2 separate regions of the Homo sapiens genome follow, and region 1 is linked to region 2. A link means that fine-mapping ties the variant in region 2 to the expression of a gene that starts in the linked region. Tissue or cell type: whole blood. Region 2 holds a variant in brackets; the other region holds the start of a gene. All regions are shown on one strand. Distances are between the middles of the regions. Region 1 holds the start of LINC01781 (long intergenic non-protein coding RNA 1781). Region 2 overlaps LINC01781 (long intergenic non-protein coding RNA 1781).

Region 1 (17,070 bases), 120 kb before region 2:
ATAGCATCTACATTTGTTGAAATTTAAAGAGGCTATAATAGAAGAACTTTTGGACAAATATAATCTAACTGCTTTATTATCTAAATCTCGGTCTTTGATAAAGCTCATTTCAAATGTATGACTCTAACACATTCAAGTATTCAGTAAATTGAAATGAGGCAACGGACTCATATGAATCCTGCTAGACTCATTATTGATGACAAAAAAGGGAAGTTAGAGATGTAATTATGTAAAGGATTTATCAACAAGATAGCTGCATTATCAACAGTGCAATGATCTTGACCAAGAAGATACACTAGAAGACATTTTTGTTCTCCATGTTCTTATTCTTTAGGTTTCTTGCCAGTTGGTTTGCACTGGAGACATGTTACTAACTGTGTATATATGATGTAGACGAATGTATGAGAAAGTGCAGGGCTTACTAGAGTGGTAACCATCATGCTGTTTCCTGTCAATTCTAGAGCTATGCAATGCATAGAGCCTTAAGGGTATTTTAACTTTATACAATTTTATTTCATTATTTTATAACCTAGCACTACTAAGTAAGAGCAGTACTGTGGCCTCCCTGTTCTGCCTAGCTATTACCATGGTCATATTACAAGGATGATTTTCAAAATGTTTAAAAACTTACAGCACTGACACCAACCAATTGCAACAGATATCAGACTTTTCACCACATGATGCAGATGCTTTACCAAGAGAATATTAGAAGAATATCATAGTGATACAGGTTGCTCTTTATGCAAGAAACTGGGAATTGTAGGTGAGAAAACACGTAAAGGAAACATAGATCTCTCAATTATCTGTCAAAATCAAAAGTCCAAAATAAAGTTGTTTCCTTTTTTGAGACAGAGTTACACTCTTGTTGCCCAGGCTGAAGTGCAATGGCGTGATCTCTGCTCACCGCAACCTCCACCTCCCGGGTTCAAGCAATTCTCCTGCCTCAGCCTCCCTAGTAGCTGGGATTACAGGCATGTGCCACCATGCCTGGCTAATTTTGTGTTTTTAGTAGAGATGGGGTTTCTCCATTTTGGTCAGGCTGGTCTCGAACTCTCGACTTCAGGTGATCCGCCCACCTTGACCTCCCAAAGTGCTGGGATTACAGGCATAAGCCACTGTGCCCGGCCCAAAATAAAGTTTTACTATAAAAAAATCATAGAAAGCAACAACAGAAAGGTATATATTTTCCGGAGAGAAATAACCCCAAGTTATTGCCTTATCTCCTGACTGACTTTACATTCGTGCACTCCATAAAGATAGCACAATGTGCAGATTTTCATAGCCATCGCCAGTGTGATACTTTCTTTGCAAAGTAATAGATTTGCCACTTGGGCCAGGCTCTTTGACTTGGTTACTACAACCATATGTGGAGTCTCTACCTCTAGGGTACATTTTTAAAGTAGCAAGATTCTAATTCTCCATTCCCTTGAAGGCATCGTTTGTTTGGAACATAAGCTAAAACTATTTAAATAAGCAATTTAGAGTTGTAGTTTCAAGTAAAAATGGCAAAATTTGATACAGGGGTGTCAATTTATAATACATATTTCTTAAGTACTCTCCAAATCCCTCAGCAGTGCTCTGTGAATGTTGTAAATTCAAAGCAAAGAATTAAATAGCAATTCTGAAAGCTAATAAGGTATCAGGTAAAACACCAACTAATTATAGAACATGGGGCTGACAACGCAGTATCAGGTGTGGTGTGCTTTTGTAATGTTTAAGTGGCTTTACTGAAACATTATTCAAAGTTCTAACAATAACATTAAAAAATAGTAACCATGCCCTAAATCTATTCGGTTTTTACTTGAAGAATAATGTTTCAATTACAGATTAAACTTTAGTAGATGAATCACATTTCTTGATGCATAAGAACTTTTTAAAATATTAATTCCAAGCATTTCTTCAAGTTTTAGAGTTATACTAGTCAAAATATGCAACCCTAGGTGGCTTAAGGTATTGGTTACTTTCATCTCCTTACATTGCTGGATAAATGTAATCAAGGTTCCCACTCGTCTATTTTCTAAGAGAGACTGACATTGCCGAAGCTTACTTTATATGGTTCGGAAGTCTACACTTGAAATGGCTCATATTTATAATCCTCTGGAAAGAAAAAGGATTAATTTAGAATGCAGGTGTTAATGTGTTTGGACCATGCCTATGTCTCTACTTCTGTGATACTTAACACATTTATTATTAGTCATTTTATGACTGCTCCTATTAATATGCAACAACACTATGCCAAGATCAGCACCTTTCTTTCCATTTCACTCTTGAAAGGACTGAGATATACTGTAAAGAAAGAGGAAACTTACCTATCTGCTATTAATGTTTTCTGTTCTTTTAAAAGAATACTTCAGATGCCTGGAGTATTCTTGCACTTACCACAATCGCTGCCTTAGCTTAATAAAAAAGAATAATTTTATTAGTTTTTTTCATTATTTCCATATATCATGTTGAATATTGATATTACAGCAGTCAAAATAACTGTGAAGTGTTTCCCTTGATATCTTGAATCTCAGTAGAAAGTGATTTAACCCTGCCTTTGCAGACAGACCTGAGTGATAGAGCCTGAATATATCTGGTCAGGCCTCAAACAGCTATATCTACATAACCTAGAAAAATAATTGTTGGAGGCAGAGTATTGTTAATGTCCTATAATTGACTTAGAAGGTTAAGTGACCTCTTAAAAGAATGTGAACTTATGAATTAAGCAGTTCTTTTACTCTCATGGGGCAGTTTATTCGCCAAGAAGAAGTAACTGTTAATGAGCTCCCTAGCTAGCAAAAGCTAGATGTAAAGTATGTACAACTTCAGAATGCCTAGTACTTCATACAGTAACAACAAAAGTTAGGTGTTGAGTTCATTCAGATCTTAATGGATCAAAAGAGAATAAGGGAAGCTTGTTTTAAAAGCTGAATAGCAACAAAATTATTTTGGAGTTTTGTATTCATGATAATTATTATAAATATAAAATTTTTAATGCCTTTAAAGTTTTCACACAAAACATGGAAAATTTTGAACTTTTTAAAGTGGAAATTCATTATTTCTTCTCTACCACAATTTCCCTTGGAATTTGAAGGTACTCAAATCCCATGTTAAAATATTATTAGAATAGAAATTGTCATTCAAGGACGGAATTGGTTTTAATTTAGTAAATAGAAATTTAGCACCCACAATGAGTTAAATTCTGTGCTATGCACTAGGGACACAATGATAAAGAAACTGTGGTTTTGTTTGATGAGGTTTTTTTTCCTCCCATCAAAGAGCTTCCTGTCAAGTGAAAGATTCAATAACTCAGTAGAGTCAATGCCAAGAAGTAAATGCTGTGTTGTGGTTATACCAAGGAAATTATGGAAGTCAGGCCCACTTCTTTTCCTCTACACAGATTGGATCAGCATGAGTGATATCACTCTTAGTTGCTTTTGTTTTAATGTGGACCTTTGGGCTGGGAGTTATAGTCTAACGAGGACTAACTTTTCACTACTCAAGTACAGAGCATATACTTAGCCATGGGTTGGACTGTCATTTCTTCCTGGAGTTCCTAATCATATAAATTACAAAGACAAAGTTTTTTTTTAAAGCCTAATAAATCAAAGAAAGGAGCATGGTTGGCTGAGTCAAAGGTTTGGCAACAGCAACCACTATGAGTAGGAAACTGAATAAAAATATTAAATAGCCATCTGCTAAAAAATAATAAAAATATATTTGTTTCATGCTTAATATGTTTAATAAAAATATATTTGTTTCATGCTTAATATGTTTAAAAACAAGGTCATGAATTAGATATCGTGTTCAAATCCAGAACTGTGGAAGGAATACAAGAGTTGGATGCAGAATTGCTAGCTGTTCTTTTTTTTTTTACTTTTCTATATTTCCTGTAAGAGGTACATTGAAGAGCATCACACTGCTTGATGGCATCCTCTAGGACTAGATGACTGGTCTACTGAGGCTGAGGCATCAGATAGCAGAGAATCAGAAGCATTACTATGACTCTTCTCAATGTCTGATTTCTGAACCTTCCACTGCTCTAATATAGTTTATATATTTCCAATGTAGTTCTATATAGTTCAGTGTTACTTAAAGTATAATCTTGCAGCCTCATGAGAGACCTTGTTAGAAATACAAATAATCAAGTCTCACCCCAGACTTAATCAGAATCTTTCCTATATGGGCCCTGCAACTTGTATTTTAAAAAGCCCCCAAGGTGATTCTGATCCTTAAATTTGAGAAGCATGACTATCAAAGGGTATATGATCCTAAGAATTTATTTGGTAAGAGCTGAATTTGGTAAGAGCAACAGATTTGGGTAAGAGCAATACTTAAATGCTCCAAAACCATTTCTTATGGTGACCTTTTTCTCTCAGGCTAGTGTATACACAAGCACAAGTATTTATTTGGAAGGAATAGGAGCTACAAGAAGTGGTTTTGGAGCACTTTAGTGTTGCTCTTACCCAAATCTGACCCAATTCAGCTCAGGATATTACTATATAAAGCCTATTAAAATAGTGATAGTTTATTTCAAATATAGGAAATTATATAGAGTCTTTTGACATAATGGGATAGCCAGATGAGTAATAGAATTGGAATAATTTGTCCAAAAAAAGTAAAAAGTAAAAAGAAATTTAGGAAATAGAGAAATTGATGATTAATTGTGGAAAGCAAGAACTTTCACAAATGGCAGAATAAATTCTTAGAACCGTATACCCTAAATACTTTTTTGGAACGAACAGAGGATATAACATTATTCATATATATAAACACGCACCTTTAGAAGCAAATGAACATTACCAAGAAGATAAAGCACCAATAAATGCTCAAACTTCTGTATACTTCCTTTAGGAATCAGGAACATAGAAGATATAAATGACACCAAGCAAGAAAACAAAGCCCAATGATAATCTAGTTAGACAAGGCAAATCTATGCATACTTTTCATTCATTTAGGAAAGATCCAGCTGTCTCTTACTATGCACCCAGCACCATGCTAATTTAGAGAGAGAAAGCAGTGAAGCAAACAGGAACAATTCTTTCTCTCTTCAATTTTAGAGCCTTGTCACTGAGGCAGACATTGTAACAAAACAAAATAAAACCAACCCCCCTCCTCCCTATACCTCCAAAGTACACACTAGGTTATAGGCTGACGGCAGGGGGACCAGGGTTTGTATTTTTGCTCTATCATTGACTAGCTCTTTAACCTTGGACAAATCACATCTTTAAGCTTCAGTGTCTATAATGAAAGGTTAATAATAGACCTCAGTATTCGAGTTATTGTGAAGATTAAATGATTCATGATAAATTGCTGACTCATTGACTAGCACATAGTAAGTATTTAATGTTAATATTTTACTGTATAAGTAGATATGCTGTGTTAATTGAAAGAAAAACACAAGGTGTTTTGAGAATATATAACCAAGGAATCTAATTAAGATTCCATACAAATAGTGCAATCTTATACTAAACTAAAACTACCCAGTTTTCTGTATACTTATGCTTTCTGTAAACTATATGGAGTTGAGGCTTCCAGGGACTCTATGTGAGACTGCCAGCTTTGGTTTTTCTAATCTGACATTAGTAAGGTAACACTGAACGATTTACCCTAGTTCTGAAGCAGAATCGTAACATAAAGGACTGCCAGTATGTCCCCTGGTCTTGTTGGCTGGAAATGTTATTTTCATACAACCATTTTCATTTTTAGTCGAGCAGCATTGAAACTTTCCAGATTCCTTGCTGTTTGGCAAATGTTTTAATTGGTTATATTTTGCTACCCTGGGCACACTATTAGACAAAATTGCAACAAAAGACATCAATAAAAAGCAGAAAGCTTCAGATTGTTAAAATCGTGAATGTTATTAATACTATTAAAATGCTAATTGCTGTTTAGAGGAGATTCAGTTGCAATTCTAAAGGAGGAAATGCTTAGGCTGCAGGATCTGAGGCATGGATTGTTTGTTCCCTAAAGGGGAGAAAATTCACTTTTGTTTAATTTATAGGAACAAGAAGGCATTCCAAGGAGGTACACTGAAGTGACTGTAGACCTCCTAGGGTCAGAGCCACCTTCAGCTTCACCCCCACCCTAGGTGGTCCTTAATTGCCACTACAGACTGCCTGGCTGGAACTTATTGTTTGCACTGCACATGACCTTGGATGAAAACTAGAGCGCTATGAATTAATCCCTGTAATATTTTGTGTTTAACATCTGTGTTGTCACCAGCTATTATTCAGAGGACAAGAAAAAAAAATAGCCAGATCTATCTCCTATTACATTTTTTTTTAAGTCTACACTATTGTTTCCCAAGGACTCCCTAAATGGATCACCTATAAATGAGTGAATCCATTCATTTTCTTTATTTTCTGAAACAAAAGTCTACAGAATTTAGGGGATAATACCAAAACCAAATAAGACTATTTTTTCAATAATAGGAATCCCCCAGATATCTGTTTCCTCTATCTATATTGCTATCATCTGTCTTTTCTTTTCCAGTATCTGTTTTAAAATAGGGGAGGATTCCAAAGCACATATATCAAAATAAAATGATTTCATGTATCAGTTACGGCTTTATTCATTGATGAAATGTAGTCACCACAGGGAGAAATGTAGCAACAACTTAGCATCCAGAAATAATACAGAACACTGTGCTGCATTAAATGAAAAATACCTGCAAGAGGAAGTGAGTTAATAAAAATTCAATTACTCAAATGGGAACTTTTCCAAGACCCCAGGGTTAACACCTAGATTAAACTCTCACTCTCACTCTCTCTCTCTCTACACACACACACACACACACACACATGCACACACACACACCTGGCTTTATTAGTTGTCAGAAGTGTTTAAAATACTCCTTTTCCTTTTATATAAATACAAGAGATACATTTATGGCTAAAATAGTTTTTATATCATCAAGCTGAGAACTAGTTTTACATAGGAAGCTAACAATAACAACAATAATAATCACAAGGATTAGAAAGAAAATGACAAAGTGTGTTGGACACGACACAGAACATTTGAAGGCAGACCCCAACACTAGGCTGTAAAATTAAGTAATGAACAGTCACTGTAGAGGGCAGAGTGACTCACAGAAGAGTCAGATCTTTGGTCTTTGATTTCATAGCTCCTTCTTAGATCTTCTCTTAGAGGTTATGGAAAGGAATGATCATCTTGTGAGGCTATTTAGGGAATCTGAACATAAAAGAAAATAGAGTTACAGATGGGTGTTAAGAGACCATTTTACTCTACTTCAATAATGTGAAAAACAGAGTAATTAGCATGGAGAAAAAAATAAGTAAATATGAGCCTAGAATACATCCTATACAGAACTTGAAATATTTTTATAGCCCTAATGTGTACTGAACTTATGTGGAGAGAATAATTTCAGAATGATATATTTAGTTGGGGAGCCACACAAACTGGGCTCTCTTAGATGCTAACTGATTATGGGAAGCAAGAAGTGAGCAGCATGGAAAAGAAATGGTAAGAATTTAGTTGGAGGAGGAAGACATCTGGAGGTTCGGCCCCAGTTAAAAATTCATAGGCAAATCCTGCTGGAAAGGGAGTTAGCAGTTTAATGAATAAGTTATTATCTAAACCCCAGGAGGTTAAATGTTAACAGAAAGGACTTCAACAATGATGTCTTAAGTGCTCCTAACTAGACACATAATGTTTAGTGTGCTGCCATTTTTTCTGAGTGTTAGTTTTAAATAGACTATTGACAAATTACAGATTTTTTTCACGTATTGAAATTATATTCCAGATGATTTTGAGATTTACTGGTATAATATTCTCCTCATGAGGTAGGATGGAAGGGAAGAAATAGAGAAAAAATGTTCTGCTCTGAAATAAATGTGGTGTTTCCTGACAGCGTTTGTCAAGGTAAGGTGTTGTCTTTAAAATGGGACATCTAGTTTCAATTTACATTATGCTTATTTCTAAGACTTCTATTTTTTGAGTTTTATGAGTAGATTCTGCTTTTCTCTATCATTTATTCAGATTATGACCACATGTGGCACTTTCTTGTATGGAGTGGTGAAAGTGGGGAAGGAAGAGAAAAGATATTTTACAGTAATGTCATATAGTAATCCTGTTAAGATTGGAGTTTATGAAAAAAAACACGAGATAAAACATTATTGTGATATTTCTTATATCAAAGTAGAATTTTCTTTCCCTCAATTATTTTTATGTTTTAAAAATGTTTTTCCCTCTTTTTGTCAAAGGCAGCCTCAATAATAGTTATCATATCTCAGTGTTTATGTTCTTAAGGCTTTCAATATTATTAATCAATCTTTCTATTTTTTTAGTAGATCACAAGTTTTAAAGAGTGTATTTTAATATAATACTCCTATTATAGGCCTATAAAATATTTAATTAAGAGAATATAATTTTCTTACTACGTTTCTGTGATTATTCATACCCCGCTCCCTCTTCCCAGAACACTTACTTGCTCCATTAGATTCTTACACAGGACCCTTTCTTTTTCCTATCGTAATTCCCAGCATAATGTGTTATCTCGCAGCCACTTTTTCAAAGTATATTTCCTTAGACTTAATTAGATTAAGAAAAGAGCAGTAACTAAGGCTTCTACCTCTTAATGAAAGCTTCCTTAGCTTTACAAATACCAGGCCAGATCTCTGAAGTTACTGTTTGAAAAGGCCCGATTCTAAAGCACTTTTATCCACATTTGACTCTCTTGAGGCATTTGTTTTTTCCACTTCAACTCACTTAATTGCACATGTCCCCAGTCAGACTGCCTAAAGAGAATGACTGTGTCTATCTTGGTCAGTTTTTACCCCAGCACTTAACACAGAGTCTCAAATAATGCAGGCAAACAACAAATATTTGTTATATTAATTCAGATTCTATATAACGTAGAAAGCAGAATCAATCATCAACGTAATAGATTCTGCTTAATTATAAAGAAATAATTTAAAATAACAATAATAATGATGATGATAGTTAACATTTATCAAATCTTCCCTAAGTGCCTCAGACTTTTCTAACCATTTTGTACAGATTAAGTATCACAAGTCCAAGAGGTAAATGCTATTTTAAACTTTACTTTATAGAGGAGAAAACTGATCACAGCAAGTTTGAGGACATAGTCTTTAGTCAAACACCCAGTAAGGGGTAGAGGTGATACTGACACTGTGTTAACACTTTTAAGCCTCTGACATTTTATTTGTAAAGCAGCTGCTTAATATATCTAAATAACTAAACCTCCCTTGCATTCCTTTTACTACCTATCATGCAGTTACTAATTCAATAAGATCTTTATTATGCCTTAATATTCTATATTTCTCTTCCTAATTTTCTTTTAGAGAAGTGAACTGTATACAAATGAACTATCCTAATCATTTTCAAGTTATTATGCATGCCCCTACTCATTTGTTAGAAAACTCTTTTCTCTTAATTATCTTTTCTCACAATAAATTGATTAAAGCTCATATTATACATATTAGTTTCTTAATTTCTTCCTGCTAAGATTAACCCATGATTATTTGAGAAACCTTCAGATTTGTCCTTGCAAACTTGAACTGCCTCTGGTTAATTGGTTCCTTCTACAGTTCTTCCTTTCTACCACTGACTTGCAGTTACCTCCAGTTATTGAGCAGCTACTTACAAAGTTATTTGATATTTGAATCCCTCTTTTCTAGAAGACATGCAATCTGTTACGCTTTAATTAGCAGGATTATCCTAGGCTATACCTGTCTTCTTCACTAACAGAATTTCTACCTCATATTACTTCTGATTATCAACAACTGGCTTTCTTAGCATCTAACACACTGGAAATTCTGTGTGCTTGATCCCATTTTTAACAGTGCCAAATTTAAATCAAATGTGGTTCATGTGGCAAGGATATTTATTTTTTCTATTTTTTAATTAGTTTTATGCTTTCAGTAACTAGTAGATCAAGATGCATTTCATACCCCTTAGAAACCTGTAGTTTCTGTATGGTAGAAGATTTAAATAACATTGTTATTTAGGGAGATGTGTTTTTGTTTTCTGACTGATTTTTTCTCCTCCAAATCATAAAGGCTTTGTAAATCACTCTCAACATTTTATGAAAGTGACTTGCAAAATAAGATACTTAAATGTAAAATCTTAGTTGTCAGCCATCAGTAAAATAGGCTGTATTGGCTGGGGTCACTCAGTTGCACAGTGTCATCTGGAAGTGAAGAATCCTTGGAAAGTTTTCTCTACTATCACCAAAAATTTTGGAAATCCATATACACATTCCTGATATTGATACAGATGGTCTTCCCAATAGTAAGGTATTTTACTTGAGACATTGAAGATTTATCTTGTTCTTTATAACAGTATAGATTGCTTAATTCAGCCAAGATATTTCAAAAGTTGGAAATTATATTTCCTCTATACCTGACCCAACAATATATTTGTAATTTTGAGTGACATTTTGTTTCTTACACATGAACTGACAATGCATCTTCTGATCAGTAAAGAATGCTAAATTGTGTTAACCAAATGCCCTACATGTTAAATCTATTTCTAATTTTCAAAACAATTTACAGTGTCTACTACTTTTAATTCTAAATATGTAAAATGCTCTAAAAATGTACGTTAAACACTCATCACTGCTTCTAAAACCTGCCTCCATTGATAGCAACCTGATCCATTTCACTATCATTGTTTTCCCATATTACTAGTATGATAACTAGTTGCCTTATTATACCCATGATGTATTCCCTGCAGTCTGTTCTCAACATAGAAGTCAAGTGAGTTCATCCCTTCTTTGCTCAAAACCCTAAGGGCTTCCTATCTGAGTAAAAGAGACAAATTCCTTTTGATGACAAGATTATTTTTAATCTATTCTTCCATAACTTCTTTGACTTCACCTTCTTCTAATTTCCTACTTACTCTTCTCCAGTGCCATTGGCTTACCTGTGCTATTTTTTTTATTCCTTTTCTTTTCTTTTTCTTCTTCCTCTTTTTTCTTTAATAAAAATAAATACAGACAAAATTATTTTCCCTTGTTTTTATTTCTGTCTAGAATGTTGCTCCCCTCAGGGGGCTCACTTCCTCTCCCACGATAAGAGAGAAAAACAGGAAGGGTAACTTGGAAATAAGTTAGTTTTAGAAGCTGTGAACATCTAATTTTTAATAATCTAGGATTGAATTACGATAGATATTTCTTAATACACAGGATTATTTTCAATATCAGTCAACATGAACATTTGAAAATAAATGCTTGATGTGATGTATAATACAGACCATCCTGCTTAATATGCACACTAATCCCCTTCTAGTATGTTTTCTTCTGCTGAAAAGACTGGAAAGATTTTTTTATTTTTATATTTTTTTTGAGACAGAGTCTCGCTCTATTGCCCAGGTTGGAGTGCAGTGGCGCAATCTCGGCTCATTGCAGCTCACTGCAACCTCTTCCTCCAGGGTTCAAGCTATTCTCCTGTCTCAGCCTGGCTAATTTTTAAATTTTTGTTATTTTTTTTTAGATGAAGTCTCGCTCTGTTGCCCACATTGGAGTGCGGTGGTGCAATCTCAGCTCACCACAACCTCCGCCTCCTGGGTTCAAGCGTTTCTCCTGCCTCAGCCTCCCGAGTAGCTAGTATTACAGGCACACACCATCATGTGCAGCTAATTTTTTTATTTTTTGATAGAGACAGGGTTTCACCACGTTCGCCAGGCTGGTCTCGAACCCCTGGCCTCAAGTGATCCACCCACCTCGGCCTCCCAAAGTGCTGGGATTATAGGCGTGAGCCACTGCGCCTGGCCACTAATTTTTGTGTTTTCAAGTAGAGATGGGGTTTCTCCATATTGGCCAAGCTGGTCTTGAACTCCTGACCTCAAGTGATCCACCCCCCCTCAGCCTCCCAAAGCGCTGGATTACAGGCGTGAGCCACCGTGCCTGGCCAAGATTTTTTTTTTAATGCAATGTATAGTTTCCCTTATAATTATGGTTTTGGAAGTAAGACTTCGATTTAGAGCTTCATGGAATGAGAGGCAGGACAGAAAGTGTCCATTTTTGCTGCTGGAGAGTGTAATATTGGTGTGCAGTTCTGGACTAGCAAATATAGTTGAAATGTCCCAATTCTATAGTTAGCCTTCTGATTCCACATCTTGCCTAATCATGGTTGGCTGAGGCAGCAGTCTCCTTGATGGTCAAGTTCTAAAGTGTGCCTTTGTGACTAATTGCCTGTGATAAGTCCCTTTGTCTTTAAAGTAGAACAGATTTTGTTCTCTGTGACACTGCGGACTGAAACAGTTGGTGTGTTTTTTAAATTTTTTTTCTTAAAGTGCAGAAGATTGCATTATCTGTTAAAATATGCCTTAATCTTTGTGATCTGAACATGATACAGAACTTTGGGAATATGCCAGCATACAAAAACATTTTTGTTTAATCATGACATTTAAACTAACCCTCTACCAAGATAAAAGGAGAAAGTGATGTACTAGTAGAGCAGAAATCCACTAGATTGGTTCAAGTTTATATAGCATAAAGGAGTACTACCTTTTGTAACCTCTTTGATTTTTTTCTGCTTTTGAAGAAGGAAAGGTCGAAAATAAAGCACTGATGGAAATACATGATAAATAAGGTAGGTCTCATGGCTACACATCATGAAAAACTAAGCACAACATTAGAAAGAGGAAAATGTGTCAAATATATTCAGTTAACTATACTATGTTAAGATTAAGATATACTACTGTGCTGGAAACACAAAACATCAAGTATTTCACAATATGATAAAATCTTTCATCCCTGCTAGTGACTCAAATAAGTATGTGTTCCTTGCCATTTACAGAAAGGGCATGTCTTATTATTTCTCAATATTATGAGTATGTCAAATGCATCTTCACATATATGTTAATAAAATCTTGAGCAGGTCATCCTTTGGACAGTGATTCTATGTATTTTCACAATGGATATGCAAATGTAGTTATACATACATATATATGAACAATAAATACATATAAACAAATCATCATTTCATTATCATCATCATCATCATATCTTAGGTGTTTAATGGGCACCTATTTGCTTTGAAGTTCATTATGTAATGGAATTCAGGTAAAAAAGCAAATGGCTTCTCATTGTAAGCAGCTTGAAGTATATTTAAGAAAAGAAAACATAACATTTTTATTTTATGGTTTACTGGCTTACTCTCTACTACTCACCATCAGAAGTAACAGAACATAATTTAGCATCCTGGAAATTATATCTAAAAAAGATATTGCAGTAATCTATGGTGGGTATATATGATTTAGCAGAATCACCTGAGACTAAGACATGTGGATTTAATATAAAGTAAGATAAACTTGATATGATCATCAACAATGTAATGAAGTTTGAGGCTGAAATGCCAGAATTATAATATTTAAAACAAAAGATAATCATTTTATTGTAGTTAAATAATACATTTAGTTCTAAATATAAGACACACACATACACACACAGACAGATAGATGGATGGATGGATGGATAGACAGATAGATAGATAGATAGATAGATAGATAGGTAGATAGATAGATAGATATTCTCCTGGAATATTTTTAGGCAAGAAAAATAAGTATAACTAAAATACCTGAAACTCTGAAAGCTTGCTTTGCCCAGAAAAAGGAAGACGATGGTAGAAAGGATCAGGAAATAGTTGCCAGGTATGAAAGCAATTTGACATATTTAGTCTCAATTAAAAACAAATAACTTTCTCTTAGAGATGTCAAGAAGTAAAATATACTTAATCAAAGGATACCAAGCTATCTGTCAGAGGAGCTGTTCAAGCAAAATTTATTTGACAAGTGGGTTGAAATGATTCAAAGGAAAGCCCGACCTCTGAAATCTATCGGACCAAACTTTAATTTCCCTTTCAACATCAAAATACTATGCTTTTGAAACACACATTAAAATAAGCATACAAGTCAATAAATGCCAGTCACAGATAATTTGTAAGTGCTAAGAGAGTTTAGAGATGGTAGAGAAAATAACTTCTATGGTGGAAAAAAAGCCTCAAAAAAGTAATGGGATTTTAATTGGACCTTTAGGGGAAAAAAAGGAGTACATGTTGCAAACATTCCAATAAAGGGAAGACATCTGATCAAAGATAAGAAAAACCCAAATATGTGTAGAATTTTCAGGGGAAAAAAATGATAAAATATTCCATTTGTATAGTTTATACCAATTTTCAAAATTCAAAACAAACATTACACATTTTATTCTCATAGTGTCCCTGTAAGGAGATAATGTTACCTACACTGCAAAAAGAAATGAAAACTTAGGCTGGTCACAGTAAAACTGCAACTAGGACCTGTACTTTCTAACTTGCTTACAAGTGTTCATTCATTCTACTCTATCTTAAATGACATTCCATGGAGCAGAGTGTAATCTTCTTTTCATAGTAGATGTATATATGAGTCACATCTTGGAACTCGCAAAGAAGTTCTAAATTTTGAGCACTGTGTAATACATATTTATTGTCCCACAATTGAATATGTGTTTGCATGGGAAATATGTTTCTTTGAAGGTATTCTTTGAATCCAGTTATTTCAAAGACAAATAAATTATATGCCATTATGGCTTCCTTCATGTTGCATGTACAGCTATTATAAAATCCTCTTGTGTTAAAGTTAAAGCAATTCATATAGTAGTAGTTATTGTTGAACTTTTAAGATGCTATGCTTATTTTTGCTATGTGGAGGGAGAAAGTCCAAGCCTTCTATTTATGTTCCATCTCCCTGGAGCACCCATCCCCTTGTTCTTTTTGCCTGAATAACTATTATTCATCAAATCTTAGTTTAAATGTTACTTCTTCAGGGGAGTCTTTCTGAGCCCCTCTTAGAGATCTAGTAAGTTTCCCTTTTGTATGTTTTACAGCACTCTGTATTTCCCATTTGTAACATAAATCATAATTGTAACTAAATATTTTGCAGAGTTATGATTTGTTTAATATCCAATGTCCTGAAAGACTGAGTTCTAAGAGAGCAGGGACTTCTTTCCTCTACATCCCCAGCAACAAACACAACAACGTGCACCTGTAGACACCTAACTATTTTTGAAGCAAATGAACAAATGAATGAGTGCTAAAATTGAGTGAACCATTAAAAAAAAAGTGCTGATGATCTTTTAATTAGTAATTATTGTTAAGTGATAAGTTTCATTGCAGCATAATTTCTTATTTTTTTCTTAGAAGCTGTTTCTGTTGAAATTTAGTAAGATCCTCTTTTCAAAACAATAACAAAAATGAATATATTTCCCTTAGCACACTTTTCATAAGGTGACTCAAGAAATTGGGATATCCTGTAGAATATCAGGTACAGCAAGTGTTGGAATTATGCAGCAATCACAGGATGGAATTTTTGAAACATTTTTAGATGAGTGTAAAGAAAAGAAACTGAATGTGTGCTCCTGACACAGGAATAGGTATTTAATAAAATAAACATAGTTTATAGATCACATGAGGCCTTTCTGTGACTGAAAGTAGAAGCATTGGCTGATTTTAAAAAAAAAAAGTGAAAGTAATTGTGTTTATTTTCATTAGTTTAGTCACTCTTAGTTAAGACTTTGGTGTAGGCTACCTCTCCACAGGATGAGCTTCAGTGAAATCATATTTAAATGCAATCGCAGCACTTCATTAATTTACATACATAAATTATAAAATATACACATATACACAGTCCCATCTCTAACAACCTTTTTACAAAATGCTACTTGAAAAAATTTTAATAACGTTAACCTTTCCAATGACAAATGCTTTTTCTTCTTATATGTACACAAGTCATCAGACAAATTTACCAGGGGTGTTCCACAAATAATGAGGAAGGATACCATTTGTGTTCATAAATTTAGTCAGTTTGTCTAGGTGGAAGGATCATATATCATAAGTCTATAATTTTATTTAAGGTATGTGGTTTACAGACTTCTAATAAACTTGATATGCATTAAAGTAGAGAAGAGTAAGCAAAAAAAAGTTTTCCTAAAGATCCAAGTAGTTTTTGATAACTGTTTAGATGAATAATAATCTCACTAGAGGTGATATTTCACATATAAAGATATTGAGATACATGTTCAAAATATCAATATGTTGCATAATATTTAAAGCATATTCAGTAACAACAGTTTAAAAAAATTCTAATGAGATACATCTCACTAAGTACATTTATAAATGGAAAAGCAAAATTTAAATGGCGTTTGAGATTGATTTCATGCATTCTATCTAGTATTATCATTTTATCTCAATACACAGATTTCCACAGAGATATATAACTAGGTCATAATACAATCTCCACACTTATTACTAATTAATTATGTGCAAATGGAAAGAGCACTGATGGCAAAAATTTGCCAACCCAACAACACTTGAACCATGGAGGGTTACATTGCCAAGTGTTGAATTTGTCAGTTCTCAAATTATAAAAGATTAAGTCACAGACAGTATTCATATTACTGCATCATATCTGTAAAAAACTTATTATGATTTATTAATGTGTTAGTCGTTGGTCATCATTAACCCTATAGAAAGTCAAAAGTGTCAGTCAATTAATCCCTATTAGAGGACTAGCCATGGAAAAAACCCTTGGATGTCTCAATCACCTAACATAATAAATTTTTATGGCCGCATTTACTTACAGTAAAATACACTCTACCAATATGTAGCTAAAATATTATTGAAATATAATGCTACTACATGAGATATGGATGGCAGACTAATTCATTGAGACATCAAAATTATAGTGGCAAAGCATTTTATGTGTTGTATAATTCTTGCACTGTAGCAGCTTCTTTTTTTTTTTTTTTTTTTTTTTTTTTTTAAGATGGAGTCTCACTCTGTCACCCAGGCTGGAGTGCAGTGGCACAATCTCCGCTCACTGCAACCTCCACCTCCCAGGTACAAGCAATTTTCATGTCTCGGCCTCCCGATTAGATGTGATTACAGGTGCCTGCCACACCATGCCTGACTAATTTTTGTATTTTTAGTAGAGATGGGGTTTCTCCATGTTGGCCAGGCTGGTCTTGAACTCCTGACCTCAGGTGATCTGCCCGCCTTGTCCTCCCAAAGTGCTGGGGTTAAGGCGTGAGCCACCACGCCAGGCCTGATGTAGCAGTTTCACTTG
Region 2 (17,070 bases):
TCTCATTATCATAAATGTTTTGAAAGTATAATGCTACCTTTGTAGAGGCAACTCTGCTTATGAGATACTGGAACAAGTTGATTCATAAGGTACTGAAAATGATAATCCAACCCTCTAGAATAAAACATACAAAACATCCCCCAATATTATGCAAAACTATTTCTGATGAGAATGACTCTTCATTCCTGTCTTATATTACTCTCCTGCTCTATTCCATTTAGAGATAAGAAAATAGACCTTCTATAAAAATGTCTCCTCAGGGCTTATGAAACGTTTGTGAGAGTGAGAGAGGGAAGAAGAAATTGTTCAGAAACATAATGGAGATCACTTGGCAATTACTATTTCTACTTGTCCAGTATCCAGTTGTTCTAATTTTAGAATTGCCAAGTCGATATCTACTTCAGATAAGAATTGGAAACAAGTGAAAACCACATAGTTATGATCCTGCTTTCTTTGCCCTTTCTCCCTGCTCCCCTACATGTAACCTTTCACATATTTATTTTGCTATCCACATTATTTTTGAAGTATGTTGTTAAACCTAAGACCTCATAAAGTAAATCCTTAGAGTTGTGAAAAAAGAAAGTGAGGTCATTTTAAAGTTGTGTGGCTAATTTACAATCTGAACGTTTTTGCATTTTTCTCATGTTAAAGAAATTTTAAAAACTTATCAATAGATTTCTTTGTGGCTTTTACTAATGAAGTTGTATTTTTTTTCTACCCATGTTAGGTGTTGAATAATTTGAATGGGAATTTGAAGGTCCATGGCTTCCAAACCAGCAGGAGTTAAGGCTTAATTGCTTGGAAATACATTTTCATGGCTGATACCAGTAACAGAAAAATGTCTGTATGTCAAGAGGCTCTGTACTAATCAGTTAACCATAACATGTGCCACCCCATACCTTGGGCCAATGTAACTGTTAACAGCTTGAAGCTATTAAAAATGTACCAATGGAGAACTTTCTTATACTTTTTTCACTAATGTGCTTCTTCACTCTAAATAAAGGAATAGATAAATTTTATACTTAACTACTGTCAGAGAAAAGGAAAGTACCTTCGCTTAGTTTGAGCTTCAAAACATTACATCCAATGGTGTTCATTAAGGTAACACTTTGAAAGTCACTCAATTGCTAATATGCTCTCTCTGCGTCAACTCAGAGGCTGCCTATTAGATCTAGTTACACTCCAGAGACAGGGATTTGCTTTCCAGCTCTAGAGATCAGGTCAAGAATTGCAATAACAATTAGTAATTAGTAGTTAGATCTCAATTTACCACATTAGAAGGTCACTCCTCTGAAGCATTTGGTCTCATGAGAGGAAAGGAATACAGGAGACCATCAACTGTTGACACTTTGAAATCAAGAAAAGAATCTAAGATTCTCCTTGAAATTCTTAGGCACTTTAAGTGTAAATTTCTTAAGATCTCATTTTTATAGAATTAATTAATGGATTTAGGTCTAAATCCTAGGTATTACAGCAACTCATACTGTGTAACAAAACAATACTCTTATATTTAATAAGATATAAATTTGTCATCTTTAAAGTGGTGATCTCCCTGTGAACCTGGATAAAAGATAAAATGTGAATACTATTTTAAACACCTCCTACTATCCTCCTAAAATATTATTAAACAATTGAAAATTTAAAATAGTATAATATCAAATAGAGTCATGTTTTATGGTATGAACGTGACTAACGTATGAAAGTTTGCAGACAAAAATCTCAGTTCACAAACTAAGATATGTGGAAAATGCATTTTCTTGATTTTTTAAAGTAAGTTGTCTTCTGCTGTGTAGTCTGTGTCCCTAAGAATATAATTAACCTTAATTATTGTTTGAACTTCTATCCAGTCCTCCACTTGACAACATGTTCAAGGTTCTTGGATCTTACACAGCATCAAAACAATTGGATCATGTGTCGCAGTCTCTGTTCATCAGTTAGCAGTTTACCAACTTGGCCATGAAAATCTACCATTCACCTATTTGTGCCTGTTCATCAGGTCTGGGAGACTTGCTGACTTCATACAGTGTCCTTTAGGATATGATGACAATATATGAGACGGAATCATTGATGCTTCTGTTACTACAGCCTGAGATGTCTTTTGGAGTGTATCTTTCTGGGATCTTACTGCCTTCACCAGAACATTGTCAGAAAATAGGACCTCAGCTTCTATCACTCCAGAGCATATATAACTCTCTCCTCTTGACAGCTAAGAGAATGTCTTTTGAGCCTGAGGGAACCCTTTCTCCTTCCTTTTTCACCAAAGATGTCTATCTGTGTAATATACTAAAATTATTAGAAGACAAATTACAGGACATTTTATAGATTACTACTCCATTCAGATTCACCACATACCTCTTTTGAGGCACTAAAGCACAGAGCTAACCAACTATCTTAGTGGAGTGAAGGGAAAAAAATATTACAAGCAGAAGAATTAAACATAAGTTAATACCCCAAAGTATTATCCAGGTATATTTATAGAATCAATATTTTGAGAAGACACAGGTTTTATGAAATGTTTTGATGATTATTTTGAAAATGTTAAAAACAACATGAATTATTTCTAGTATCAGCTAAGTACTAGAAATTTTAAAGGCAAACATTAACCTTATATGTATAAAATGTAGGTATTATTAATGATATAAGGAAGAATTTTACTACTAGAATCTTTCCCAGCAAGTCTACAGGTTTCATAAAAGAATAGTAAAATTCTAGCAGGAAAGGACAGTGTATCTTTCTGGAATTAAAAATTGCATTGGTTAAGAGCTTTGGGGTGCAAGAAACAAAAGCTTTCCTTAGGTAACTTAAGTAATGGAGTTTTAATACTCCATTTTAAAGATCACCAGAATTTCCATATTGCAGGAGCTTGTGATGGGATATCTTGTTGGAAAGAAGAGCTAAGTAAGTGGTCTCATATTTGCCTTCTATAACATAGACATTGCTTTTACTTATATTGTATGAATTCTTTAATCCCACTGATAGAGCAGAAAATTAATAATAACATATATTAGTATGTTAACATCTAATATGGTTTGGCTGTGTCCCCACCCAAATCTCAACTTGAATTGTATCTCCCAGAATTCCCATGTGTTGTGAGAGAAACCTAGGGATGGGTAATTGAATCATGGGGGCCTGTCTTTCTCAAGCTATTCTCGTGATAGTGAGTAAATCTCACAAGATCTGATGGGTTTATCAGAGGTTTCTGCTTTTGCTTCTTTCTCACTTTTCCCTTGCTGCCACCATGTAAGAAGTGCCTTTCACCTTCCACCATGATTCCAAGGGCTCCCCAGCCATCTGGAACTGTAAGTCCAATTAAACCTCTTTTTCTTCCCAGTCTTAGGTATTTCTTTATCAGCAGCATGAATACGGGCTAATACAACACCCAAATAGAATAAGAGAAATAAGTAGATGACTTTTTGAAGAAAAACAGGTGTAAAACTGAAACAGAACCAATAGCACAAAGATAACAAGAGAAAAAAATAGTTCATTTTAATTTCAGTTGTTCTCATAACATATAATTGAAAGTAAAAATTTGCTTCTTTACAAAAAGAATGTTATGATTTGCATATATTTGAAAATAAAGTCAATTAGCTTTAGAATTAGCATTAAGGAAGTACCATATAAGCCATGTCAAACAAGGTGACCCAGGACACTCCTTCACCTCCTACATTGTGATGCCACGTATATAATATGTATAGGCCTAATTTTGATATGGAAATAATGAGCAATGTGGGCCACACAAAGATGGTACTGAGAAGGCACACAGAGAGGCACTAAAAAAAAAGCTAGATGTAGTTAAAAGTAGAAATAAAGGCATGGGTTTGAGTTTTACATAAATATCTAAATTCAAATATATACATTTGACAACTCTGGAGATATCTACAAATGGCTTGCTTCGATGGCTGGATTTGGACAAGTCAATATGTTTATAATTCATGTCATTATAATTCCATTTTGCCTTACATATCTGCTTAGTTGCATAAAAGAAACTATAGACTGGGAAAATAGGCATCGCCTTTTCTTTCTTATTTCCAGGAATTACAGTGATCCAAATAGTCATAGCACTTCCCTGGCTATAGGCCCTGGAGTTTAGGCCTGTTCAGATAGAAGAAGTTTAATAGTAAATAGTGTCATCAGGACACAGCAATGGTTCTGGAAATCCAATAGCAGCTTAATATATTGACAATTTTCTGTTAGTATATCAGCCAGAATATTACATTCTCAAGCAATTAAACCTTATCTCCTGCTGTTTTTGAAGTCATGAACCATCAAATTTCCTATTTTTGTTAATCAGCCTCTATTCTTGATTATGAGTGCAGACAGCTATGAGTGCAGACAGGGTGATTTGGTAGAGAAAGTATGTAAAGAGCCGACTAGAGAAGTTATTCAAATCCTCATGACTTTAGGCAAGACCATTTTCCTCAGAAGCAGTTCAGGACATTTCTAGGACCTGGAGCATAGTGGATTCCTTTGCTGTATGTGAATCTATAGAAAAGAAAGCTTAAAGGCATATCAGTTGAGAAAGAAATCTTATTATATAATAATCATTGCAAAGTGATCTTAGCATTTATGAACCAACTTTAAAACAAAAAAAAGTGTAAAATGCATAAAACAAAAAATTAAATTTTAATATCCAATTACTTTTGGAGGTATATAATGTCTATTTTATATATTATTGATCAATGTGCAAAGTATGTAGAAATTGTATATTAAACTTTTAATATGTATAATTTGTGCACTGAATAAATACTGGGCCTTAGACACTACCAAGGGTTATCTTTAACACTGAGACTGTAGCACTGCCAAAAGTATATTCTTTTTCTTCAGTGAAAAGCATACCCGATCCAAAAAAAATCCATAATAGCTACCTTATTGTGGTTATGGTAGACAATTAGAACTTTCTTTAATAAACACATTATTATATTCTCTTCCATTATGTTTCAATTTGTGATTCTCCATGGTATTTTCTGTTGGCTCCAACTTCTATCAGTGGGCACATGTTGGCGATGACTGACAGAGGCTGCTTTCAATAGTCTTATTCGCAACAACACCTCTTAGTTGAAGTCCCACATGTAGTTTAGCCATTAGTCAGCTCTTGGCAGCCTCAGATGCCTTTGAGACAACAATTCTCATTCATTGCTCTGTCAGTTTACTCAGGTAGGTTTATTCATGTCTTAATGTATATTTTTAAATTATCCTTGAGATTTCCTCTTTAACCCATGGATTGTTTAGAAGTGTGTTGTTTAGCTCCCAAGTATATAGAAGATGGAGTAGACACACTTTTTTCCTATTCCTCCATCTAAGTATAACTTAAAATCAAGACATTATATATATACAAAACAAACATAAGAAAGATCTACAGAGTGAAGATAAGAAGGCAGATTGGCTGTGGACTTTGGGACCAAGGCAACAGCAGAGTGGTGATTTTGGTGTTTTCCTCTTCCTTCCTATATCCTAGGCTTAAAGCAGAAGTTGGCAACCCAGAAACACCAACGCGTGCAGAGCAAAAAGAAAAAACAAACAAAAAAGTGCACACTTAATAAACAAACAAAAAACTCACCATCACCATCAAAAGTATGTTCTTTCTCTATCTAACCAAATAACTAGGAACTGGGCAACCCAGAATGACATAACTTTTAGACCACTCTACTTCAGTCAAATACCACAGAAAAAAATATGGCTCCCTCATCACCCATGACAGCAAAGGCTGAGTGGTGAGCTGAGATTTTGATACTCTTCAGGCTATAATGAGGTACCCCAGTACCCTCTCCAGTGTGGTGTTATATAAAGGTTTGAAGTATTACTGGAGGCTGACTGAGGAACCTAGACTTTCACACATACAGGGAAGAAATGAGGGAATATACCCACTGCTTCTACTGGGGTGGTGTCAATGAAAGCCAGCTAAAATGCTGAAGACACAGCAATAAGCAAGATAGGTTATGACTTTTTCTCTCTCCTGAATATTCTAGTGGAGATCAGGGTCCAAATGTTTGTAATATTAAACACTGTAATATTAGGTTATGTATGTTACAGAATGACTGTGTCTCTTGCTACAGACGTATAAACCAAAGGTAGTGCCTATAGCTAAAAACAGACAACTGAACAAAAATGTCGTATGTGCCAAGATGAAGAAGCAAGGCAAGAGGCAAGTACTAGAAACCAAAGCAACTTAGATGACCATGAGGTGTCCACATGTCTTGATAAAGAGTGATGACTATCTGTCCACATAGAAAATATTTCATTTAATTATGCCTAGGAAAATATATGTTTATGGAGTACTTACATAGCATAAGGCAAAAGAAAACACACCTTTTAAAGATGCAGAGCAGCTGAACAATGAATAGGTGATATTGATGACTGATATATTCTGATTTATAGTTAATTTAGATGAGCCTACTCTCCCCATAATTCTAACAGCTTTAACTATGCCACAGATTTTCTTGTGGATGAGGTTTATGTTAACCATGGCTGGTCAATGGTGGAAAGTAAGGATAAACAGGACCAAATATCTTAAAATTTTGAACTGTAGAAAAATCATAATACATTCTTTCATTAAATTTTGATATAAGATGTGTGTCTTTAAGATCCCAGTCATGAGGATTTATTATAAAATGAGCTCAAATGTAAAGCAGAACTAGCATATGGATTATGAGCATGATATTAAACGAAGATATCAAGAACATGTAATTAGTTTTCAAGTAATTAAAAAACAAGAATAAAAGTTATTTTACGTTCTGATATAATTTTTTAAAAAACTCATCTATGTCAAAGGTAGACATTCGGAGCTACACATATGACCCATTTTTAGAATATCTCACTTCCCTAGTTTTCTCTTTAGTCTTTTTTACTTGTAATAAGAAAAGCTTCAAACCCTTTGGCTAGTATTAATTGTACACAGCAAGTTGGAAAACACCTCTTATAGTATTCTTGAAAGTAAGAAAGTCTGTTTATTTTTGATGGAACATTTATTAGTTATGTTGATCCTGCAAAT[G/A]TTAATGTCAAAGAGATAAACTATATGAATAATAATATTTTCTGTGAACTTGAAAAAAGAAATGGTTTTAACATTATAAAGAGAGATGCATATTATTATCGCAACATTTAAAAAGTTTTGTAAACAGTATGAATTAAAAGTCAGATATTCACAATTAAAAATAGAAGACAAATGATCAGATTTGGAAAGGTTGTTGAACGGCCGTGGCCATTTTTGTAGTGCACAGAAAGGCTAATGTTTAATCTGGTACTGTACCTTGGCACACTTATATTCATTAACAAACATTGAGGAGAATGGATTCTCATTACAAATTTTTCAAATTATGTGACATAACGGGAAAACAACATTCAATTATTATGCTAGGTCCTGACACTCCAACATTTTTGCTTTTTTATATTTCTCACAGCTGGTGAAGAATGCCTATCTTGTCATCTTTTCAATGCTGGCTGATATATATTTGTTTCTAAATCAGTTGACATTTGTACTGGAAAGGGTTCAAGTACCTTCATCCTGTTCATTGTTACCTTATGCCTGTGGAATTTTACTGTACCACTCTGTAATAAAACTCTAGTCTCTTGGCTATTTTGTTCAGAAACCTGCGGTGATTTCCTAATTGCCTTCAAAATGAAGTTCTTTAACTTTGGCCAAGCAGTCAAGCACATGGTATTTCTTTTTTTTTTTTGAGACGGAGTCTCGCTCTGTCGCCCAGGCTGGAGTGCAGTGGTGTGATCTTGGCTCACTGCAAGCTCCGCCTCCCGGGTTCACGCCATTCTCCTGCCTCAGCCTCCCAAGTAGCTTGGACTACAGGCGCCCGCCACTACGCCCGGCTAATTTTTTGTATTTTTAGTAGAGACGGGGTTTCACCATTTTAGCCGGGATGGTCTCGATCTCCTGACCTCGTGATCCGCCCGCCTCGGCCTCCCAAAGTGCTGGGATTACAGGCGTGAGCCACCGCGCCCGGACCACATGGTATTTCTAGTGGCCATCTTCTTTTTTTTTTGAGATGGAGTCTCGCGGTGTCTCCCAGGCTGGAGTGCAGTGGCGCGATCTCGGCTCACTGCAAGCTCCCCCTCCCAGGTTCATGCCATTCTCCTGCCTCAGCCTCCCTAGTCGCTGGGACTACAGGCGCCCGCCACCACGCCCCGCTAAGTTTTTGTACTTTTTAGTAGAGACGGGGTTTCACCATGTTAGCTAGGATCTCCTGACCTCGTGATCCACCCACCTCTGCCTCCCAAAGTGCTGGGATTACAGGAGTGAGCCACCGTGCCCAACCTCTACTGGCCATCTTCTTAACACAGTTATCTTCTACTATCCTCCACCTACCTCCTCGTCAACATCTGATTCTCCTAACTTTCAAGTATATCTTGCACGTGTGCCTTTCTCCACATGTATCCAGCTGTATTAGTCTGTTCTCATGCTGCTAATAAAGATATATCTGAGGCTGGGTAATTTATAAAGAAAAAGAGGTTTAATGGACTCACAGTTCCACATGGCTGGGGAGGCCTCACAATCATGGTGGAAGGCGAAGGCAAACAAAGGCATGTGTTACATGGCAGCAGGCAAGAGAGCGTGTGCAGGGGAACTGCCCTTTATAAAACCATCAAACCTCATGAGATTTATTTACTATCAGGATAACAGCAAGGGAAAAACACGCCTCCATGATTCAATTACCTCCTATTGGGCCCCTCCCACCAAACGTGGGGATTATGGGAGCTACAATTCAAGATGAGATTTGGGTGAGGGCACAGCCAAACCACATCACCAGCTGTTCCCATTCCCCTTCTGTATTGTCTTCTCCAAATTAACACCACTTTTCAAGGCCTGGCTCAAATGTCACTGTCTCCAGGTGCCTTCCCAGGTTTTTCTCATGAGTTTTTTCCTCTGTGCTTCCAGTGTTCTTGTTCCCATTACTATTTTATCTCAGTATATTTAGCCTTGTATTCAAATTTTATTTTAAACTTGCCCGTCTCCTCATTATTATTAGGGCTTGTGTTGTTTTATATTTCTATAAATTGTATTACCTTTCATATTGTGTTTTTCCTATTGTACTTCTGAACAAAATAATGTTTCACTGTTGGTCAAAATTAATAATTCATTGAAATATACCAAATGAACGCATACAAAATACGCTTGTAGGTTTAATTAGATCTCTGAATATAGCAGACCCAGACCCAGTCACAGTGTGATTTTTGCAATATGAATTGCAGTTCTTATTGCATAGATCATTCACTATCAGAGCAAGTCTGTTGATTTATGTTGAATTTTAGAATCCATGAATATGCATATATTACATATTGAGGTTAAAACAAAAATCCTTAATAGGGAATTAAGACAGGATATTTGTGAATGTTTCATGGCTAAACGGGACTATGATAAGCTATGCCAATATATATTTTCAAAGTAAGCAGAAAAACAGGAAAAGAAACCTAATATACAGGCATTTTAGACACATAATTTAGCCTTAGGACAAGGTTCTGAAGCAAACAACACAAAGTTAAATGCCTCTAAGAGGTACATAGATAACAGAGATGTGGTATGCAATTTGAGTTATGATGGGTAACCTGCTAATAAAGGGAATAAATTGAGTTTTGCCATGAGCTAATGTGGGCCAATAATACCAAACTTAATCTTTTTTTTTTTTTTTTTGCATTATTTGTCAATTTTTATATGAGTTGTCACACAAAACTCTGGGTTTTTACCTTCTCTTGAAAAAATCTAAAGATTAAAAGAATCTCATAATTAGCAGTCTGTGACTTCTGTTCAAAGGCTCTTATAAAAGGTGATTGAAAAGAGAGAGACAAGCAAAATTAAATGTAGCAGTTGGAGAGAAGTGGAAAATCCAGTATACCTGTTTTGAAGTACAGGTTGAAGATCACGAGTGATTTGTGAAAATTTAAATACAGAATAATAGCAGATATAGTCTAAGTAATGACATAACTATATTGATATGAAAGGTTGATTTCTGACTTTTGAGAGTTGATCTAATTATAACTTTTGAGAGTTGATTTTTGTTAGCATTGAGAACATTGTACAAACATTTTCTCAGTCTTCTATATAAAACCTAATGGTATCATTATTTCAGATGAAGAAACTGAGACACAAAATTAAGCAACTTCTCTGAGATCCTTGCATAGCAGGAAATTAAACCCAGCTCTTTTGTACTAGAATGTTAGTGTTCCTAGCAAACACGCTAATCTGTCTCCAATTATTTGGATCTAAAATCAGGTATATATATGTTTAGCTAGCATCTGCCCTTCACAGAGTTCATTATCTCTTGGGATTTATGATTAACTTCTTTCTGGGATTGAGAAACTAGTGACTAGCAGCTAGATGCTGGCAACTCAGCTGAAGTGGTTTGAAGAAGCTTACCAGGAACTAGCCAGTGCCCTAGTGGCCATCTCTGAAATATCCCTAGAACACCTGCCAGGCAACAGACTGGAGGGTTTATTCGTGTGCTGTTTGTACAGTTGAGAAAAAAGATACTGCCAAAAGCCCAGCCTGAAACAGCCTAAGGATTAAAAAAGAAGGAGCAAACTTGAAAGATGTAGATTGAGTAAATATGTAGGACTGATTTGGCACTCAGTCCAATGTGTACAATAAAAGAAAAAGCATGAGTCAGTAATTTGCATGAGGTTTCTCTCTTAGGATTTTACTGAGTAGAATAGAAAGGATGATTAGAAGGGAATATGAAAAGAGGTAGTATTTTTGTGTCAACAGAAATAGGTCAATAAAATATATAATATGTAGTTTGGTTATATGGGGTGATGGTTCTGGCCATATTGATGCTAATTGAATAAAAATCATTGTTATCAATTTCTAGTATAATTGAAGAGCTTTCCAAAAAATTATTCATCTATCATATTTTATTTTTAATCATTAAATTTACGTTTTTTTTAATCTGAAGGCTAAAGTTTGTCTTTTATTCTCTTGACAAAACATTGACAAGCTGAGAAAAACACACACGGAGTGCTTTTGATGGGCAAATATGAGTCATGCTGCGTTGGATGAGTAACCTATGAGTGAATTTTGGCCATTTTGTTTTGAGCTGTCAGATAAATTTCTCTTGGGCATCTTTCCTATTGCTGTGCATCTGAGCAAAATAATATTTTATTGTTGGTCATAATTAATAATTCATTGAAACATACCAAATGAATGCACTCAAAATATAGATGTAAATCTTATTAGATCTCTGAATATAGCAGTTCCAGTCACAGTATGATTTTTGCAATATGAATTGCAGTTGTATGTTAGATCCTTTTCTCTCAGAACAAGTTGAGAATTATAATATTAAAAAATTGACAAATTACTTTCTGCTTATAAATGAGAAAACAGATTTGTAAAATGTGAAATGAGCCATTCTAGCAAAGTAGACTTTGAGCTTCAAGTGTAAACAGTTCAGTTAATGGCTGGGGTTTCTCAATCTCAGAAGCTCTGGTGCATGGGGAGGGTGAAGCAGAGGTTATGGGAGCTCTTCAGCATTTTACTGAGAACATCCTTATAGGATTTAATTAGGCAGATTACCTGTTATGCATGGTGTAGTGTGCTGAACAGTTTTAAACTGGTATATCCTCGAGGCAAATGGAAGGCAAAGTCATAAGGAATTACATTCTACACAAATAACTCAGAGTATTTTATTAGTGGGCCTCATAGAAATAAAATCTTCCTTGCCAATGCACCATTTAATGTTTAACTCAATTGAGTACCAAAGAATTGGTTAAATGTTCAACGGCCATCTAGATTTATGGATCCAACCTGACCACCCTTTCAGTATTTTTTTTTTCTAGTAACAGCGTTGGAGCTTTGAAATAAAACAAAATACCTTTAGTTTATAACAGCATGTGCTTTATTCTACATTACCAGATAATAGCACCAGTATAATTGTTTACAAGAAAGATAAATCTGGTTTTTGAAAAACAGTAATATTTTATAATTAGAACTTCAAAAAGTAAAATTGCTTAAAATACCCCAATGAACAGTACTGTTTACTAATCACTTCAGGATGCAAATGTTAACTTGCTACGTATATGCTAAATTCCTGAATCTACTTAATCACTTTATTCACCTAACCACCTACAGGGAAGGGTCACTGTGTCAAGCAATCCTGAATGGTATTTTGTGTGAATTGGGAACAAAGCTTTTAAAGGCCAGAGGTTTAGGAACATAAACCAGATGTGCTCATTTTAAAAAGTCTACTTAGTTTGTGGAGGAGAAAGGTCAGCCTCTTAGATCTTTTAAAAATCTTACTGTCAAACACATTCCATGGAAACTAAGCATTTTAATATTCTTAGAGGGCTGCTTCACTGACTTTTTTTTTGATAAAATGTTTGCTCTGATCTGTGTTGTACATGAGTCTATTCTACATTTAGAGTACAATAAGATTTCCTTAACCTTTTAAAAACCCCCAAAATAAGTTAGAATATTTATTTAGACTTTTATTCCACAGAAATGATGTTGAATTATTTTTTAAAATTGTAATTCTAAACACAAATGTCTGATTTAAATGCCAATTCTCAATTATTTGCCAAGTACAAATCTAGGTCACAAATTGGCTATTAAAAGGAATAATTTATAAAGATATATTTATATAAAAGTGAATGACTTTCCTCTTTAGGGTGACGATACACATGATGTCTAGTGCTCACTTTCACTATAATTCTGTTTTAAAAGAATTTATTGAAATTCATGCTTCAATACTTCTGCAGCATATAAATTACATTGAATTTTTGTTTAGACTATTTTTATACTATTCATCCAATTATTCATGAGAAATAGGTATTTCTTTATGATAATAGTTCAGATTTACATTCTCCTAACTCTTAAGTTATTCCAGTATTTCAGCTGTTACTGGTGCCATCTAATCTCACCTCTGAAAGCAGAGTTGTGTGTATTTAGCAATACATACTCTGATATCCTATGGCCTTGGGATGAGTCCCGCATATTAGCTATATGATCTTGGGTAAAGTTAAATTTTTAAATTATTTAATTTCAATATCTGTTTCATTTGGTCAATATGACTAAATGAGAAAATACATGATATGCTAACACAGTGCCTGGCACCACAGTACTGAGTACATTGCAAACTTTTACAAAATTTTACCTACTCTATCCAATCACATAACAAGTCAAGCAGTATCTCAGCCTAAGAAACGGCTGTAGAGTTTGAAAAGTGTTGGGCTTATCTTCTCGTTCTGACCCTCTGATCTCAGGCAACATCCTTAAAATATCTTAGTCTTTTAAAGGCCTATATTAAAGCAAATATTTTAAATGCTTATATTAAAATAGGTTCTTTGAATTATTATAAAAATATGAGATAACGTTTGAAATGACCTAGTACCATTTCTCAATAAAGTTATTTAAAATTTAATTTGTAATGCTTTATCAATGTTATGTCTAGCCTCAGTTTAAATGCAGGTTATTTTTAAACTATAGTAAATAACAATTTAAAAATAACCTGAATTTAAACTGAGACAAGACTCACATCTGCATCAGTGGATTCGGTGTTTTGGCAGAGCCTATGAATTTCTTCCTGACATCTGTTTCTCCCTTTCTTAGTAATAGAATTCCTGATTTTTAGCTAGCCACATGGACATCTGGAATAAATGTTACATTTCATGGCCTAAGTACCCTGTTTACTAGCAGAGAAACGAATGTTGAACCTCTAATATAACACCATAACTTGGAGAAAACACCTACCTCCCGGTAAAATGTCGCTTACGTGTATTTTTCTTTTTTTGATAATAGAATAAGTAACAATTTGCCCATAGTGAAATACACACTTATTCTGAATGCAGATTTGTCTTCTTTGCCCACAGTGATTCTACAAACAACATTCCTAAGTTTACTGCATTCATTCTTCACTCTAAAATATCCGCATATGATTCCTTCTGACCAAGAATTTTGCTTTACAGCAAAAAAAGCAGAGCAAGGGGATAATTGCCACAGCACTAAAGAGTCATATCATGTACTCCATCATCCAGAGTCAGAGAGCCTTTTAAGAGAGTGGAAGACTATATGTACTGCTCAGTAATGTTACCAACTAGAAAATAATTTCATATGATTTGTTGATGTGTACATATGGATTATCTTCTTAACCAACAAGCATAATGGTGTTTTTTGTTTGTTTGTTTTTGTCACAGCTGAAATACATGAGTCTGGGAGGTAAGAATGGGGGTAGGAGGGTCACCTCTCACTGTTTCACTTTATGACCCATTTACAAAATGCTGCTTTCAATTCCTGTGATCTTGACCTCTCCTGGCTTGGAGATCTTAGTACTCAAGGAAGAAATTCTTCCATCAGGGAACACAACGATAGCTCAATTGGAGTCAGACTTGAGCTTGCCACCTGGCCATTCCAGGTTTCTCATGATATTTATTCAGTATTTACACAGAATGTTACAAGGTGGGTGAGTGTGATTGATCCTCATTAATCAGGGGAAATAAGGTGACCATTGTGCATTAGGGACACAGGAAATATTTGGAAACCAGTGCATTCTTTTGTGTGCCTGATAGAACTGTCATATCCATTGCAAATAATAATAATAATGGCAAAACTGTAGCATTTCAATATAAGGAAGTCTTCTAAGAACTCAGACCATTCAGATGTGAATGTTTGAATTACCCATCCAAACTCCTGTTAGGCACTGGATGAGAAGCAAGTAGAAAACGGACTTGAAGGAGCAGGACCAAAATTATAAATACCAACTATGATATCACTACCAGCTGTACAAATGAGGTCTTCAGTGGCTAACATATTGTTCCTTGTTCTGTTATGTGTATATTTTTATTAGCTAACTTTACTTTTTTCCTTCATCTCTTCCTTTCTCCTATAATTTTATATTCAGTGTGGGTGGTGGTTAACTTTATAATTTTATCCTTGGTTCAGGGTTGTGACAGAATTAGAGGAGAAATGATCACACAGAGATGAAATCAGTGCTTGCTAGAACTCATTTTAATTTATAGAGAGATATTGCATCATGTTAGCTGGCATCATATTGTGTTTCCAAATGCTCCTGTTTGGAAGCTTAAATTTGGGATGAAGGGTATGTACGGATGACAAATATTTCCAGCAGAAGTTTTGTAGGTACTGTGCCTTGGCTCCCACACAACCTCCATTCCAATCACTTTTTGGTGTGCTATCCTGTACTGAAAAGGCTAGATAATCCAAACTGTATTTCCCAATCTTCTCATCTCGGGAGTTCTGTTGTAATTTAGTGTCTGCCAAACACATTTTGTAAGTTTTAGATTTGAAACTGAGTTATGGCAAGAGAAGAAGAACCTAATGCAATCATTTCTGATGATAAAGTTTGTAGCAGAAGCATCAAGGATCCTAACTAGATGACTCTCTGCCATGATGTGGGAAGAATTCCCCATTGGGGCAAAGACAGTGGGGCTCTGTGTTCTGCCCCTTCCTGATTCAGTGGCTTCTTATAGTCGTGGGAACAGCTTTCCTGCTAATATCAGAGGCACTGTGATCAAAAGGTCTGGGGGGAATATTTGTCCTCTCTGAGCTTGATCCACTCACTCAATCTTACAATAATTCTATTTGGTCAATCTATAATTTAATTAACTTCATCATAACAATTATTCATTCTGAATCTGCCCCCACGAAATTGAAATATTAGTACAAAGATGAAGATGATGTGATGCCTTTGTTGAAGGAACTCACACTCATAGGAAGAGAGATAGTCACTATGATGCAAATCAGACTGCAATATAATAGAATTAAAAATTACATGCTATAGGAACATTGCAAGTAATTCTATTTGTTGTTGGATAAGGTTCCATACTCTTTGGGCCCTAATTAGAGTAAACTGAGCAGAATTTTAATAAAGAATTTAGGTGGTACAGGAATGGTTCCTCAGCATTTCAGGCTGAGGTATTGGAATTCTGTGGTTGGGCTAAGTGACTGTCAGATGAATACAGATGAAGAGTGAGTTTTTCCATTACTGGAAAACCCAAAGTGTGAGTGTGAATGGGAGATCTAGGGGAATAAATCTAGAAAAATAGGCTGGAGATCAGGTTGCATTGAGACCTAAATGCAATGGGAGTTTACATTTTGTTTTGTGGGGGTGGGTTTTTTTTTTGGTTTATTTTGTAGGCAACAAAAATTACAAAGCTCAGTTGAAGAAAGGAAATTATGGAGCTACCATATAGATTAAATTAAATGTGAAAACGAGAGGAGTATGAGGAGGCTAATTAGGACGTTATCACAATAGGAAAGGATATAACCTAAGGCAATAATGTGGGAATGAAGACTAGCAGATAGACTTTATAAATACCATGGAACAAAAATGAACAGGGCTTGGCTTCCTATTAAATGTGAAAGTTGATTAAATATTTGGACTTGAAAATGGCTTTTGAATCCCTGAAGGCATGAAGATGCTGGTGGCTTCAACAGGGGCAGGGCCATGAGGGGCAGGGCCATGTGGGTGTGACTGGAAATTTATAGAGTTCTCTTCTGATTTGTTGCACTAGAAATTTGTATGGTTTATAAGATCTAGCTGGAGATGCCCTGCAGATTGTTAAAGTCTAGAAGTTAAAATAGAAGCCAAGATTATAGATGCAGATTTCAGAGCCATATTTAGGAATTCGAGGTGGTATTAAATAATGCCAATCCCCACCATTGCTGTTTGTCACAGTGGGCCTCATACTGCACCAGCAATTTTTGCAACAGTTAGGAATGACATCTATGTAGCTAATAAAATGGTAAAAATTAATGAAGAGAAGTTGATAAGTATGAACAAAGTATTTTTTTTAGCTCATTGAGATGCTCCTGGGGACTCCTACTCTATATTGGTTGAGATTTGGGAGGAAGTCAGAAAAAATTTAGTTATTCCTGTTATTATAAACCTCTTTTTACTTAATACTTGATGAGGTTTGGAAAACTCAAAGTATGAAATATCAAAAAGTTTTATTTAAAAATTTTTATGGGCAATTTTTTCTCCTAAACATGTTCCTCATTCTGAATGAGTCAATGGATTTCAGCAAGCTTACAAAATTGATAGGATTTTTGAAGTGGTAGTAAAAACTCACATTGCCGTATACATTTAAATCACTTCTTCCAATTTGGTTATGCTAGAAAGT

The links. PIP is the estimated chance that this variant, and not a neighbour inherited with it, causes the effect. A credible set is the group of variants that fine-mapping cannot tell apart.
Region 1: LINC01781 starts here. The variant in region 2 is the best candidate, but not a certain one, in a credible set for the expression of LINC01781 in whole blood (TOPMed, PIP 0.56).

What each region holds. Positions count from the first base shown.
Region 1 is chr1:80,528,077-80,545,146 of GRCh38, forward strand. LINC01781 (long intergenic non-protein coding RNA 1781) reads left to right here and starts at 7,679. Exons shown (of 3, transcript NR_125941.1): 1 at 7,679-7,866.
Region 2 is chr1:80,645,836-80,662,905 of GRCh38, forward strand. LINC01781 (long intergenic non-protein coding RNA 1781) reads left to right here. Exons shown (of 3, transcript NR_125941.1): 3 at 728-953. Among named protein-coding and RNA genes, the nearest start is that of LINC01781, 120 kb to the left of the region's middle. The variant G/A (reference allele first, on the strand shown) is at 6,989.